Linked DNA regions of Homo sapiens: region 1 is linked to region 2. Evidence: fine-mapped QTL for protein levels in blood plasma. A gene starts in region 2. The other region holds a variant in brackets. All regions are shown on one strand. Distances are between the middles of the regions.

Region 1 (6,942 bases), 10 kb before region 2:
GGCCACAGGAGGCTCAGTACCCCCTTTAGGCGGGGGGACAGTGAGGGCAGCACCAGGAGAAGCCAGGAGCTGTGTCCCCATCCACCTTCAGGTCCCCAGGTCCCCTCCGCTCCAGGTGAGGCCATGACAGCTATGGAAGGCAGGAAGCTGAGCCCTGCTGTGGCACAGAATCCCCCTCAAAGGAAAAACACCCTTCCCAGGGGTCCTCTCCCAAGGGGGGCTCCCACCACCACCCCTTGAAGTCTCAGACCCAGTTGAACTCCTGTGGGAGCTGGTCTGGCTGCCCCTATCCGCAGTCACCATCCAGGGTGCTCAGGGCAAGAGGCCCTCGCCCTGTGCCCTGACCGGCCTCACCGAGCCCGTGGAGTGAGGCGGGGAGCTGGGGGACCACGGGGGCGGAGG[G/T]TACAGCTGGGTGGCCGCATACTGCAATGAGGGCTCTGGGCTGCAAGACTGAGGACTTGGCACCTCACAGTCCTGCCAGTTTAGGACGGAGCTTTGTTTACCTGCAAGAGATAGGGGAAAAAAAAAAAGACTGCAGCAGTGTTCAAGACCACCCTCCCCACTAAGCCAAGCCGCATGTGCTTGTCCCCCACTCTACCCAGGGCCCATCCTGGCTTCCAGAAATGGCTTGTAGCCCCGGGGAGCAGAGGATATGCCCGGGAGGACGCCAGCTCTGCCAGCTGGCCTGGGTGGGCCCAGATGCCTGGCCTCCCACCCCCAGGCGCCATCCCCTGAGAGCTCCTTACAGCAGGAGCAGTACAGCAGCTCCATGACCCGGAAGCAGTTGTCCAGCAGGGCTTTGGGCCGCACCAGCTTCAGGTTTGGCCCTGGGGCATTCAAGAGGGACAACACGGATTCCACCTTGGGGCTGACCTCCACATCCTGGAAAGGAGGAAACAGTCAGGAGCGGTGGCGAGATGGGGCCGCACCCCAGGAGAGCCGTGAGGGCTGTCCAGTCACCTGGAGCTGCCCAAACCCCGGAAGAAGGACCAGACTTCCTGTGACCATGAGCCTGGATAGCTATTTCTCACCATCTTCTTCCTGTGGGCATGGGGAGGGTCCCAGATGCCACCACTCACCCATGTACAACTCAGAGGCTTCGCTTTTCCATCCTTGAAAAATGAGTAAAGGGCGTAGACCAGGACAGTGAGGAAAGTGGGGCAAACTGCACCCAGGCACGGCCACCCACCACTGCGTGAGGACCCCCTGACCTGGGGAAAACTGTCCCTCAAGAAGCAGACATCTCCATCAACTCCAAGGAACAAGAGAAGGTCCTCACAGAGACACTGAGGCTTAAGTCACATACACAGGGCAGGGTGTCCAGCTTCAAGCTGGGGTGCTTTCTCTCCACGATATGCAACAACAGGGTCATGTGGGGTGCACCGTGGCACCAAGGGAATCAAGTCCCTGAACAGGAGGTCAGGGCCACTGTAGAAAGCATCATGGGAAACGTGGGGGGTGATCTTCTGGAAGGGGGTGACAACAAGGCAACATGTCCTGGGCCAAATTGTCCCTCTCCTCCCCCAAAAAGCTGTCTTGGTCCTACCCCTTGGTACCCGTGAATGTGACCCTATTTGGAAATAGGTTCTTTGCAGAGGTAATTAAGTTCAGGATCTTAGAAGGACATCATCCTGGATTTCAGGTAGGCCCTAAATCCAATGCCTGATGTCCTTGTAAGAGAAAGGTGACAGACATGGAAACAGGGCAGAAGGCCATGAAAAGACTGAGACGGCCAGGAATGGTGGTTCAACCTGTAATCCCAGCACTTTGGGAGGCTGAGGGAGGCATATCACTTGAGGCCAGGAGTTCAAGACCAGCCTAACCAACATGGCAGAACCCCGTCTCTACTAAAAATACAGGTGTGGTGGCAGGCATCTATAATCCCAGCTACTTGGGAGGCTGAGGCAGGAGAATTGCTTGAACCTGGGAGACGGAGGTTGCAGTGAGCCAAGATTGCCCCACTGCAATGCACCTGGGCGACACAGTGAGACTCCGCCTCAAAAAAACAAAAAAAGCCACCACAGAGGCCAGGCAGGATGTAATCCCAGTCCTGTAATCCCAGGACTTTGGGAGGCTGAGGCAGAAAGATCACTTGAGGCCAGGGGTTCAAGACCAGCCTGGGCAACATAGCGAGACCCCCATCTCTAAAACAATAAAAAAGAAATAAAATGAAATAAACAGGAAAAAGAGCCACCAAGCAGATCAAGGAGTCTCCTGACTTTGTAGGAATTGACAGCCTCCCCACCAGTCTGGTTCCAGGAAAGCTCCAGGCAGCTGCAAAACAGGTGCTAGTCCCTAAGCCCTTTCACCGTCGGAAGCTCACAGTTGGCCTGGGATGTTCTCCCGACAAGCTGGGCCTTGTCAGCAGCTGGCTGGGCAGGGCAGCAGGTGGATCCCAGGGACAGGTGTGCACCAGAGTCCTGAGGAGGTCTGGTGGAGACGGGGAGAGGTCCCACCGCACACACGGCCTGCATGGGTCATCTCGCCACCTTCCTTTTTTACTACAACTCAGGCATTTTAGAGGATAATATCCCTGAGGCCTCAGATCAATTTCTCTGAGCGGGTCAGGGATGGGGGACCTCTTTTTTTAATTAACTAAAGTCCATAATTTACATTAGGGCTCACACTCTCTGTTGTACAGTTCTGTGGGTTGTGACAAATGCATGATGTCATGTATACAACATGAATGCATTATACAGCATAGTTTTTTGTTTTTTGTTTTGAGATGGAGTTTTTCGTTCTTGTTGCCCAAGCTGGAGTGCAATGGTGCAATCTCAGCTCACTGCAACCTCTGCCTCCCAGGTTCAAGCGATTCTCCTGCCTCAGCCTCCTGAGTAGCTGGGATAACAGGTGCCCACCACCAGGACTGGCTTATTTTTGTATTTTTAGTAGAGACGGGGTTTCACCATTTGGCCAGGCTGGTCTCAAACTCCTGACCTCGGCCTCCCAAAGTGCTGGGATTACAGGCATGAGCCGCCGCGCCCGGCCTGCAGCATGTTTTACTGCCCTAAACATTCCCTGTGCTCCATCCATTCTTCCCCTCTCCCCCTACCCCACCTCCAGGACCCTCGTGTTGCAGAAACAAAGAGGGTACGATGACTTGCCCAGGATCCAGAGGGAGAGAGGCAGAGCCTAGAACAGAGTCTCAGAGGCATCGCCTGCACCCCGAGCCCGGCTCTCATGACCACCACGGCTGCCTCTTCCTTCCACAGGCCTCTTTTCCTGCACCCCTCCCCCACTTCTCCCACGTCCCTCTGCTTGTGCCCATCTTTCCGTGTATTCACCCTTTCCCTCACTAGCCTTTGGCCACACCTCACACACATGTACACACGTGTGCACACACACACACCCCACCTGCCACTCCTCCACACAACTCACCGTGAGGCCCTGCTGGACATTCAGCAGCAGCGTCTCCACCTCCTGCAGGTACTTCCAGGATGGGTGGCCCTCGAGCAGCACGTCCTGCACCGACTCAGTGGCACTGAGGCTCACCAAGACCCACAGATACCGCAGCTCCCGCTCGCTCACCTGGGCCCTCTGCTGCGGAAACAGGGAAGTCACTGCAACTCGGGAGACATGGGCCTCTGGGCTCTGACCACTCCCTCACCAGGGACTTGCCCCTGCATAGGGAGCAGACGCGGGCCGTCCGCTGTGGACAGTGGACAAACATGTGCCTGGGCCAAGGGCCAGCCTGCTCTCGGGGCTGAGGAGAGGCCCCAGGCCAGCAGCACCACCTGCCAGTCCCAGCGCGCCTCTGAGGCTGGGGCCCACCGGATGTCGCAGGAGGCAGGGTCCCCCCAGCCCAGGAAGGGATTCTCACCAGCCTGGTGACGTTGGCGATTCTGAACACCCCCTCGTAAGGCACACTGATCTTGTAGTTGATGGGGAAGTAGTGTTTCTGGAGAGGCACAAGAACAAACTATGAGGCCAGAAGTAGAAATGACCAGCAGGCTCCCCAACCTCCCAAATGATGTTTTTTTTAACAGTTAGTCTCACTCTGTCACCCAGTATGGAGTGCAGGGGCAGCATCATGGCTCACGGAAGCCTTGACCTCCCAGGCTCAAGCAATCCTTCCACCTCAGCCTCCCAAGTAGGTGGGACTACAGGTGTGTGCCACCACGCCCAGATGATTTTTTTATTTTTTGTAGAGATGGGGTTTCTTCTTGTTGCCCAGGCTGGTCTTGAATCCCGGGCTCAAGCCCCTCAAAGTGCTGGGGTTATAGGTATGAGCCACCATGCCCGGCCTCCAGATGAATTTTGATGTAGGAGGAGAGAACTCAGGGCCCAGACCTTTGACGGCAGAGGTGGTCCTGTGCAGAGAGGTGTGCCTGGCTCCCAGCTGGGATAAAAACACTTCACTTTCCTCTGGGACTCAGGGTGGGTGAAACAAAATACACAGTTCCTGTTAAGGCAGAAATTTCAGGCTCAAGAGTGAGGACACGTTACTTCAAGAAAAACATGTTATTTTGTGGGTGAGAATGTTCTAAAACCTATGATGGTGATGGTTGCACAACTCTGTGAACTAAAAACTCTTTGAGTTGTGCACTTTAAATGAGTAAATTATGTCTTTTATATATAAATATGTAAATTATATCTCAGTAAAGCTGTTAAAATAAAAAAGACACAAGCCAGGTGCAGTGGCTCACGCCTGTAATCCCAGCACCTTGGGAGGCTGAGGAGAGACAGTCACTTGAGCACAGGAGTTTAAGTTTACACTGAGCTATGATCCCGCCACTACACTTCAGCCTGGACAACAGAGTGACACCCTGTCTCTAAAAATTAAATTAATTAATTTAAAAAGATACATTGGTCAGGCATGGTGGCTCACACCTATAATCCCAGCACTTTGGGAGGCCAAGGTGGGCATATTGCTTGAGCCCAGGAGTTCAAGACCACCCTGGGCAACATGGTGAACCCCTGTCTCTACTCAAAAAAAAAGTTTTAATTAGCTGGGCATGGTGGTGCATGCCTGTAGTCCCAGCTACTTGGGAGGCTGAGGTGGGAGGATCATTTGAGCCTTGGAGGTGGAGGTTGCAGTGAGCTGAAATTATCCACTGCACTCCAGCCTGGGCAACAGAGCAAGACCCTGTCTCAAAAGAAAAGAAAAGGATTTTTAGGAAAAGTTAAAAAATTAAAAAGAAAAAAAAAGGGCCGGGCGCAGTGGCTCACGCCTGTAATCCCAGCACTTTGGGAGGCTGAGGCAGGCGGATCACGAGGTCAAGAGATGGAGACCATCCTGACTAACATGGTGAAACCCCGTCTCTACTAAAATTGCAAAAATTAGCTGGGCATGGTGGCGCGCACCTGTAGTCCCAGCTACTCGGGAGGCTGAGGCAGGAGAATCACTGGAACCGGGGAGGTGGAGGTTGCAGTGAGCCAAGATTGAGCCACTGCACTCCAGCCTGGTGACAGACCAAGACTCCGTCTCAAAAAAAAAAAAAGATACATAGAGCCACACAGACATCTCCACTCTGCAAAAAGAACCAAATATTCCGATTTCTAGGTCTTTAGCTCCCTGGCTAATAAGTGCCTGGGGTTTGTCAAAGAGCTCCAGGTGTCCATTCCTGAGTCATATGGTGACTGCCATCATGGAGGTGGGATTAAAGTGAGATCGAGGAGGAGGGGTGGAGGCCCCAGGAGATGGCAGGAGGAGGGTCAGTAAGTGCAGACCAGGTGCATGGGTAGGTTTCGGAGAAAGGCAGAGAAACAGGCCATGGTCGGCTCAGGGCTGACACAGGTCCTAAGAAGGGCTCTGAATGTCCAGAGGCCTATGCCAGGTGAACCCCGGGACGCGGGGACAGGGACACAGCTGGTGCCCACGTGGTTACCATGTACTGAAGTCGGCTCCTGTACTGCAGCTTGTCCCGCAGAAAACCCGTGACAGTGCACTCCTCATTCTGCGTCAAGGGCCACATCTCCAAAGGCTCATTCCCCAAGGCCACGCCAAGGAAGATCCCAAGATCTGTGGACCACACCCGACAAGAGCACATGAGCACCCTCCATCTCATCCACGCCGTCCACAACACGCAAAGCCGAGCACAACCATCATCCATTTGCATAGGAGACAAGCACCAATGGGAAAGGTGTGGTGGGGGGCACGGGATCTGGAATGCTTTCCCTGGGGTCTGGCTCCAGAACAGCAAGGTCAGGCAGGCACTAGCAGTGCAGAGAGTCCACACCCACCCCATGCCGGCCACTGGAGCCCCCCAGGAGGCACGCCTCAGGGTCGACGTCTGGTCTCCCCGCTTCTGTCGCTCCGTGGGGCAGGCACAACCTCCCGCCCAGAACAGCCTCTGCCCCTGGTGTCCGGGTGATATGTTTTCAAAGCTCGTTGCTGGGTTTTCCAGCCCGGCATTCAGGAGATCGAATCATCCTGGATTCTGGTTTCAACTTGATAAAATGACTCTTCAGTCACCCACGCCCCACACCACTTTCCTTCCTGCTCTATCTGATCTTAGTGTCCCTCCCAGCTAACTATGCCAGCGGGTCTGTAGCGCCTTCCAGTCTGGTCATTCTAGGACGTTAAGCAGATCTCATACTTGGCTGCCTCTCTTCCTGCAACAAACGAGCCGCTGAAACATTACCATCCTTTGCCACTGGGGGTCACTGTGACTCCAAAAACAGCCTATACGATTTCCATGTGACTGAACAGAAAAAAAGGAGAGAATTCGCAACAAATATGAATAAAGGTTAAGTCCATCAGAGCAGAAAGAATAAAACAGAAGTAGGCCAGCAACTACCCAAAATATCAGACTCACTAACTAGATAAATAAATTCACATTAAAACAATCAGATATAATTTTTCTTTTTCTTTTTTTTGGTCACCCTGGCTGGAGTGCAGTAGTGGGATCATGGCTCATTGCATCCTAGAACTCCCAGACTCAAGCGATCCTTCTGCCTCAGCCTCCAGAGTAGCTAGGACTACAGTTGCATGCTACTACG
Region 2 (8,330 bases):
CACTCATGACCTGGGATTACAGGTGCGCGCCACCACATCCGGCTAATTTTTTTTGTATTTTTAGTAGAGACGGCGTTTCACCAGGTTGGCCAGGCTGGTCTTGAACTCCTGACCTCGTGATCCACTCACCTCGGCTTCCCAAAGTGCTGGGATTACAGGCGTGAGCCTGTGTGTGAATCCATAACGCAGTTAAACACTGCACAGCCCAGCGTGCTGAGAACTTCACATGTGCATTTGGGGATTCGCCTCAAGCAGTAGAAATGGGAGCAGACATTGTCATCCCTTGCAGAGCTCGTTAAGGCACAGGTTGTCCTGCCTGCCCCAGAGTCTCTGCTCAACCAGTCTAGGATGCAGAGAGTCTACCTTTCTAACAAGGTCCCAGGTAAAGCTGTGGCTGGGGGTCTGGAACCACAGACCTAGAGCAACAGTTGCAAGCTGGTGTCCCGAGAGCCACCTCTGGTCCACAAGGATTTCACACAACAATTCAAAATTTCAGCTTTTCTTTAAAAAAATCAGTACCTCTGTCCACACTGGGTCTTTTTTCCTGTGTGGCCATCACCATTGGCCGTCTACTTCACCTCCCAACCCTACAGCACCTGCCCTTCTCTGTGTCCCGTTCTGGGGCCCTGGGGACCCGGCAGCTGTGGCCTCAAGGCAGGGACTGTGCCTTGGAGTGACACTGAGCCTCCCAGCCTGACACGGTGGGCACACAGCTGCCCTGGAAACCCTGTCCACAGATGATCTGCCTCTCCCCCAACTGGGCAGCCTTCCTCTGAGTGCAGCCCAAACATCATTGCTAAGGGCAAGTTTCTTTTTTTGCTGCCTCCACCCACCCAGAGAAACAGGTTAACAAACAGGGACCAGGCAGGGACAGCACAGCCCCAACCTCAAGGCCACTGTCCCCCACATGCTCTGCACACCAGGAACCCCACAGCCAGTGCCACCCCTGACCTTGGTCAGGAGACCCACCCTGCCCTTGTCTTAGCCCAGAGGTAAGAACCCACAACACAGGCTGGGCACGGAGGCTCACACCTGTAATCCCAGCACTTTGGAAGGCCGAGGTGGGCGGATCACCTGAGGTCAGGAGTTCAAGACCAGTCTGGCCAACATGGTGAAACCCCATCGCTACTAAAAATACAAAAATTAGCCAGGCGCAGTGGCAGGTGCCTGTAGTCCCAGCTACTCGGGAGGCTGAGACACAAGAATCATCTGAACCCAAGAGGCAGAGGATGCAGTGAGCTGAGATCGTGCCGCAGCACTCCAGCCTGGGTGACAGAGTGAGACTCCGTCTCAAAAAATAAAAATAAAAATAAAATAATAAAACAACCTGCAAGACAGAGAGGAGGCTTAAGAAAGATCTGTGTGAGTACGGTACTCCCTTCCTGGTTCCCTGGCCCTGGGTTGACCCTATGTGCAGTGACAAGTGAGGCTTGTCACCCCCAGCCCCGGGGACCAAATCTGAACCTGTGCAGTGGGTTAAATAGCATCTCCTCCAAATCCACATTCACCCGAACCCGAGTGTGACCTTGTTTGGAAATGGGGTCTTTGTGAAGTAGGAGGTAGGACCGACTCCAGAGGCAGAGCCCTGACACTGGACCAAACTGAGGACTAGTGAAAACAGGGGTGGACGGGGCAGAAGCAGCATTCCAAAAGACATGCTCAGCAGTGTGCCATGTCAGTTTACCATTGCCATGGCAACGCCTGGGAGTTACCACCGCTTTCCATAGCAATGACCCAATGTCCCAAAAGTTACTACCCCTTCCCTAGAAATGTCTGCATAAACTGCCCCTTAATCTGCATGCAATTAAAGGTGGGTATAAATATGACTGCAAAAGGCCCCGAGCTGCTCCTCAGTACGCTTCCTCTGGCACAGCCCTGCTCTGCAGGAGCTGGCACAGAGCTATAACATCTCTTCAGTAAAGCTGTTTTCTTCTACCACCAGCTTGCCTTGAATTCTCTCCTAGGGAAAGCCAAGAACCCTCGCAGGCTAAGCCCCCTTGGGGGCTCGCCTGTCCTGTGCCACTTACAGGCATTATTAAATGAAGGATGTCAAGATTAGGCCATCCTGGATTTAGGCAGTTCCCTAAATCCAGTGACTAGTGTCCTAGGAAGAAGAGGAGAGGACATAGAGACACACAAAGGGAAAGGCCACGCAAAGACAAAGGGAGATCTGAGTGACTAGGCCACAAGCCAAGGAAGCCAGGAGCCACCAGGAGCTGGAAGAGGCAAGGGAGGCTCCTTCTCGGCACCTTTAGAGGGAACGCAGCCCTGCAGGCACCCTGATCTCACACTTCCGGTCTCCAGAACTGTGAGACGACACATTCCTGTTGCTCTAAGCCACCCGAAGCTTTCTAATTGGTTATGGCAGCCCAACTTCCTCAGCACCCCAGCCCCTGGGCACCAGCCCCCACCTCAATCTGCTGCTCTCCCTCTCCCTCATCCCCCAGCCAGTCTTTGCCTGGTCCTAAGACCCACCCCTCCTGGAGCTTTTTCCCCTCTCCCTTGCTTTTCTTTCTCTCTTTTTCTTTTCTCCTTTTTTTTTTTTTTTTTTTTTTTAAAGACAGGGTCTCACCCTGTTGCCCAGGCTGCAGTGCAGTGATGCGATCCTTGCTACTGCAGCCTCAACCTCCTGGGCTCAAGTGATCCTCCCACCTCAGCCTCCTGAGTAGCTGGGATTACAGATGTATGCCACCACACCTGGCTAATTTTCCTTTTTTTAGAGATGGAGTCTCGCTATGCTGCCCAGCCTGGTTTCAAACTCCTGGCCTCAAGCCGTCCTCCTGCCTTGGCCTCCCACAGTGCTGGGATCACGGGCGTGAGCCACCAGCCCAGCATCCCTTGCCTTTCATTCGCACCTCCACCTCCAGAATGACCCTCATTCCCTCCTGCACAGACGGTGACAGCAGTAACTCCTACAAACACCACCAGACTGATCTTCAAGAGCAGAGGAACTCCCAATCACGATTCCACCCCCGCCGGGCTCTCAAATCCTCCAGGGCTGCCTGCTATGGGGAGGGAGGCACACTTTGCTTGGCTCTCAAGGCCTCAGCCAGCCGGGTCCAAACCAGCTCCCAGCCTGGCCTCACCATCCCACCGCCAAACCTTTGCTCACACTGGCCCCTCTTCCTGGAACATGGGCCTCATGACCCCAGGTCTACCTGTGTGACCACCACCCCACCTTCTAGACCATTTCCAGTAGCCCCTCCCCCATGCTGCACCCCTGCTTCTCATGACCTAGGGGTTTCCAGAACATTGGGTCCAGCTGGGTCCTTCCACCCATCCTTAATGTCCCAACCCTTTGTTGTATATTTCCACAAGGGCCAGGGTGGACCCAACTCTTCTTTCAATCCCTCGCAGGCTCATACCCCAAACCTCCAACAGTTCCTGAGCACTCAACCCTGTGCCAGGCGTTGGAGACAGAGGCACGAGACAGCAAGGTCCTTGTTGTCATGGCAGTGACTCTGCAGTGGGCACGTGGGAGGCACCGGAAAAATGTGTTGAATTTGAGTCAATTGAACTGGATCTTGGAGACTGAGGGGATCTTGGTCTGGCCTCCCAGCCAGCAGGCATAAGAGGCTTCCAGATCCTTTTTTTCCTTTCTGTCCTCATTTCAACTTATTTTTCTTTTTACCAACAGTGTTATCTTTCTGCTTTTTAATTCTGTTCTGTTATGGAGGGAGGGTTGGAGGGGAACAGGCTGCCTTCTCCAGGCATCTGGCTGCTCTTCTGCCGTGGGTCTTGGGTCCCTAGACACTTTCACCAGCCCCTGCCCCCCTCCACCGGCCATACCCAGGACTGGGCCGCTGCTGCCCGCCCGGGGCTCCCCAACACCCACAAGCCTGGAAAGGTGAGATGCTGCCACCTACCCCCAGTGCCTGCCCCGACCTAAGACCACCCTGAGGACCATGCCCACCCAGCCAGAACTGCCCACCCAGCTTGCCCGTCGGAGCCCGAAGTGAGCGGCAGACAGGGCAGACGGCGGCCGTGGGAATCTCAGAGGGTGTCTGCAGTCCGGCTGGGAAGCATCGCAACTTCTCACCAGCAAGAATGCCCTGGTTGCTATGGTTACGGCAGATCCTGGATCTAGGCCAAGGCCTCCCAATGCAGGTCCCTAGGGACCCCCCAGTACTCACAGCGCAGCCAGGTGAAGCCCCGGGGCATGGTGGTGTTCCTCGTCCCCCTGAGAGCTCAGGCGCCGTCCCCAGCAGTGTGTCCACAGAGGCCTAAGCACGGCCTACATGGCCTCGGGGCAGCAGAGGTGGTCACTCAGTCAGGGAAGGGCTGGCCCTGGAGGAGTGGCTGGGCTGCGGGAGTGAGCAGGTGCCCCAAGGGCAGCAGCTGCCCTTATCTGCCCGGCAGCGTGGAGGACAGCCGGGGGGCGGTGGCCGCAAGTCCCATGGCAGCCCAGAAGCAGGTCTGAGCCGGTGGCTTGGGGGTCTTTCGGGGTCTTCCTTTCCAAGGAGCAGGAGGAGAGAGTCCCTGGCAGGCCCCTCGGAATCTGGGGCTGGGTGACGCTTTCTCTGATTTCTCCGACTGCAGCTGCTCAGTGTGAAATCTGGCTCTAGGAAGAGAAAGGAGGAGAGAAACTGATTATGTAAGAGCAGCGCTGCCACTCAGCCATCAGCCACAGCGCACACCGCACCCACGGCCTGCACAGGACCACCCGGCCCTGGCAGCTGGACACGGCTCACGTGAGAAATGACTTCAGGATGTCCGAACGGCCCTGGCCCATGAGTGAGTTATGATGACACCAGCTGGCAGCCTGGGGCCTGAACAAAAGCAGGACCAAGGAATGAACAGGTGGTTTGAGTTCACACATCGAGAGCCATGGTAGAGTCCATGAATGACTCAGGCTAAAGGACAGGTTAAAAAAGCAGACGAGCTCCCACTCCGAAAACAAGCCGGACGCAATGGCTCATGCTTGTAATCCCAGCACTTTGGGAGGCCAAGGTGGGAGGATTGCGTGAGCCCAGGAGTTCGAGACCAGCCTGGTCAGCATAGTAAGACCTCAGTTCTATTAATAAAAAAAAAATTAAGAAAAAAAAAATTTTTTTGAGACGGAGTCTCAGACTCTGTCATCCAGGCTGTAGTGCAGTGGCGTGATTTTGGCTCACTGCAGCCTCCACCTCCAGGGTTCAAGCAATTCTCCTGCTTCAGCCTCCCAAGTAGCTGGGATTACAGATGTGCACTACCATGCCTGGCTAATTTTTGTATTTTTAGTAGAGATGGGGTTTCACCATGTTGGCCAGGCTAGTCTCAAACTCCTGGACTCAAGTGATCTGCTGTCTTGGCCTCCCAAAGTGCTGGGATTACAGGCGTGAGCCACCGCACCCGGCCAGGACTAAGGTCTTTACATTCACTGAATCTCTCACAACAATCTCATGGAAGTGCAAAATCTCAGTTTATCAATGAGGAAACTGAGGCCCAGAAAGGTTAAGACACTTGTCCAAGGTCATACGGCTTGTAAGAAGTGTGACAGGAATTCAAACCCTGTGGGCTGGTGGCTGCTCCCAAAATTCGACAACCACACAGGGCTCAGCGTGTGTGCGTGGTCCTCCCATCTGCCCCTCTGGACTCTGCAAGGTCTGGACCATTGTGTCTGCTCTGCAGATCAGGCTGGAATTCCGTCTCTGATTTAGTTCTCTTCCATCCCCTCGCCTCCTCCCTGTCTCCCCTCTGGTGGGGGAAAATGGCTACAGAGTGACACCATCGGGGGAGAGCAGGTATGACTTGGGCATCTTCTTCATTGTGTGATCCATGGTGTCACCAAAGAATGCTGGCCCTTACCCTAAGAGGTGCCCAGCAGGCAGGCAGGGCCTTATAGAGAGAACACGGGTTGTTCAAGTTAATCCCTTATGCAGTCACCCTGAATCTCAGCCCCAGTCGCTGCCTGCTGCTGCTCCTCTTTTCCTTGTCCTTCCTCCTTTTCCTCCTTCCTCTTCCTCCTTCTCTTCCTCCTCCTCCTTCCTCGTCTTCCTCCTTCCTCCCTCTTCTTCCTCCTCTTTCCCCCTCCTCCTTCCTACTCTTCCCTCTTCCTTTCTCCTTCCTTCTCTTCCTCCTTCCTCGTCCTCCTTCCTTTTTCCTTCTCCTCCTTCCTCCTCTTCCTCTTCTTCCTCCTTCCTCCTACTCCCTTTCTCTTCCTCCTTCCTCCTCCTCTTCCTCCTTCCTCCTCTTCCTCCTTCCTCCTCCTTCTCCTCCCTCCTCTTCCTCCTTCCTCTTCCACCTCCTTCCTCTTCCTACTTCCTCCTCTTCCTCCTCTTCCCTCCTTCCTCTTCCTCCTTCCTCCTCCCTTCCTCCTTTTCATTCCTCCTCCCTCCTCCTTTTCCTCCCTCCTCCCTCCTCCTTTTCCTCCCTCCTCCCTCCTCCTCTTCCTCTTCCCCCTCCCCCTCCTCCTCCCCCTCCTCCTCCTCCTCACCCTGGCAATTCCCCTGCTGTTACAGCATCACTACAAACACTAACGTATCTAGAACATTTAGTTGTCATTAGTTTGGGGATTTTTTTCAGGTTTATTGAGGGCTAATTTACATATACTACATTTTACCCTTTTCAGTATACATTTCTAAAAGTTTTTAGCACATTTATAGAGCTGTGTAATTACTATAATAATCAAGATACAAAACATTTCCATCTACCCAAAAAATTCATTCCTTTATAGTGGAAGTTGTCTAAACAAACTGAAACAAGGTAGAATAGTATAACAGACCCCCATATAGCAGTTACTCAGATTCAAAAATTGTCAATCTGGCTGGGTGCAGTGTCTCACACCTGTAATCCCAGCACTTTGGGAGGCCGAGGCGGGTGAATCAGTTGAGGCAGAATAAACTCCAAGGAGAAGGGGAAAAAACAACTTCAAATACCAATAGAAAAACAAAAAAGTTATTTCCACAGAGTTGTCCATAAAAGGTCAGGACTTTGAGACCAGCCTGGCCAACATGGTGAAACCCTGTCTCTACTAAAAATACAAAAATTAGCCAGGTGTGGTGGTGCATGCCTGTAATCCCAGCTACTCAGGAGGCTGAGGCAGCAGAATCACTGGAACCCAGGAGGCGGAGGTTGCAGTGAGCCAAGATTGCTCCACTGCCCTCCAGTCGGGGCAACAGAGCGAGATTCTGTCTCAAAACAAAAGAAAAAAATGATCACTCTTCTGTCATTCCAGCTTCACTCATCCCCCAATTTTTTTTTCCAGGAATATTTTAAAGCAAATCTCAAACATGCCATTTCACCAGCATGTAGGGATTTTTAAAATATATAATCACAATATTGTCATCACACAACCCTCAAATTAATAACTCTTTAATATGATTTCATATAGAATCCACGTTCAATTTTCCCTGGTTATTTTTTAAATCTCTGATGTGCATCTTAAGTCTTTTTTCTTTTTAAAAATCAATATATAATTTGCATGCCATAAAATTTACCATTTTAAAGTGTACAGGCTGCGTGTGATGGCTCACACTTGTAATCCCAGCACCTTGGGAGGCCAAGGCCGGGGGATCGCTTCAGCCCAGGGCTTTGAGACCAGCCCGGGCAACATAGTGAGAACCCGTATCTACCAACAAAAATTTTTTTAATTAGGTGGGTGTAGTGGCACGGGCCTGTGGTCCCAGCTACTTGGGAGGCTGAGATGGGAGGATCACTTGAGCCAGGGAGGTCAAGGCTGCAGTGAACCATGATCACGCCACTGCACTCCAGCATGGGTGACAAAGCAAGACCCTGTCTCAAAATAAATAAATAAAGTGTGCAACAGCCAGGTGCAGTGGCTCACTCCTGTCATCCCTGCAGTTTGGGAGGCCAAGGCAGGTGGATCACCTGAGGTCAGGGATTCGAGACCAGCCTGGCCAATATGGCAAAACCCTATCTCTACTAAACATACAAAAGATTAGCCAGGCACGGTGGTGCGCACCTGTAATCCCAGCTACTCAGGAGGCTGAGGCAGGAGAATCACTTGAACCCGGGAGGCAGAGGTTGCAGTGAGCCGAGGTAGTCCCACTGCACTCCAGCCTGGGTGACAGAGTGAGATCCGTCTCAAAAATAAATAAAAATAAATAAAAATAAATAATAAAGTGTACAACTTTGTGGGTTTTTAGTGTACTAAGTTGTGCAACAGTCACCATTATTTAATTACAGAACATTTTCATCACCCCCAAAATAAACTCTGAACTCATTAGCAGTCACCCCCTATTCCCTCTTCCTCCCAGCCCCTGGCAGCCACTAATATTCTTTCTGTCTCTATGGATTTGCCTATTCTGGACATTTCATATAAATGGGATTGATTATGCAATACGGGACCTTTCATGTCTGGCTTCTTTCACTTAGCATGTTTTCAGGGT

Alleles and levels. Alleles are on the strand shown, and positions count from the first base shown. The strength of an association depends on the size of the effect and on how common the allele is.
With allele T in place of G in region 1, the plasma level of the protein whose gene starts at base 4,550 in region 2 is lower (strong association).

Evidence for each region. PIP is the posterior inclusion probability: the model's chance that the variant is causal. Protein levels are from antibody-based Olink assays in UK Biobank. Linkage for the fine-mapping came from a reference panel and not from the study's own genotypes, which makes the PIPs less certain.
Region 1: its variant is fine-mapped to the plasma level of the IL34 protein (UK Biobank, PIP above 0.99). The variant lies in the coding sequence of IL34. If it changes the protein, the assay may bind it differently, which can mimic a change of level.

What each region holds. Positions count from the first base shown.
Region 1 is chr16:70,653,558-70,660,499 of GRCh38, reverse strand. It overlaps IL34 (interleukin 34), which reads right to left. Exons shown (of 6, transcript NM_001393494.1): 2 at 5,829-5,962; 3 at 3,821-3,898; 4 at 3,379-3,540; 5 at 747-882; 6 at 1-503. The coding sequence ends at 313. Among named protein-coding and RNA genes, the nearest start is that of IL34, 10 kb to the right of the region's middle. The variant G/T (reference allele first, on the strand shown) is at 403.
Region 2 is chr16:70,642,779-70,651,108 of GRCh38, reverse strand. It overlaps IL34 (interleukin 34), which reads right to left and starts at 4,550. Exons shown (of 6, transcript NM_001393494.1): 1 at 4,134-4,550. The coding sequence starts at 4,161. RefSeq lists an enhancer at 818-1,318.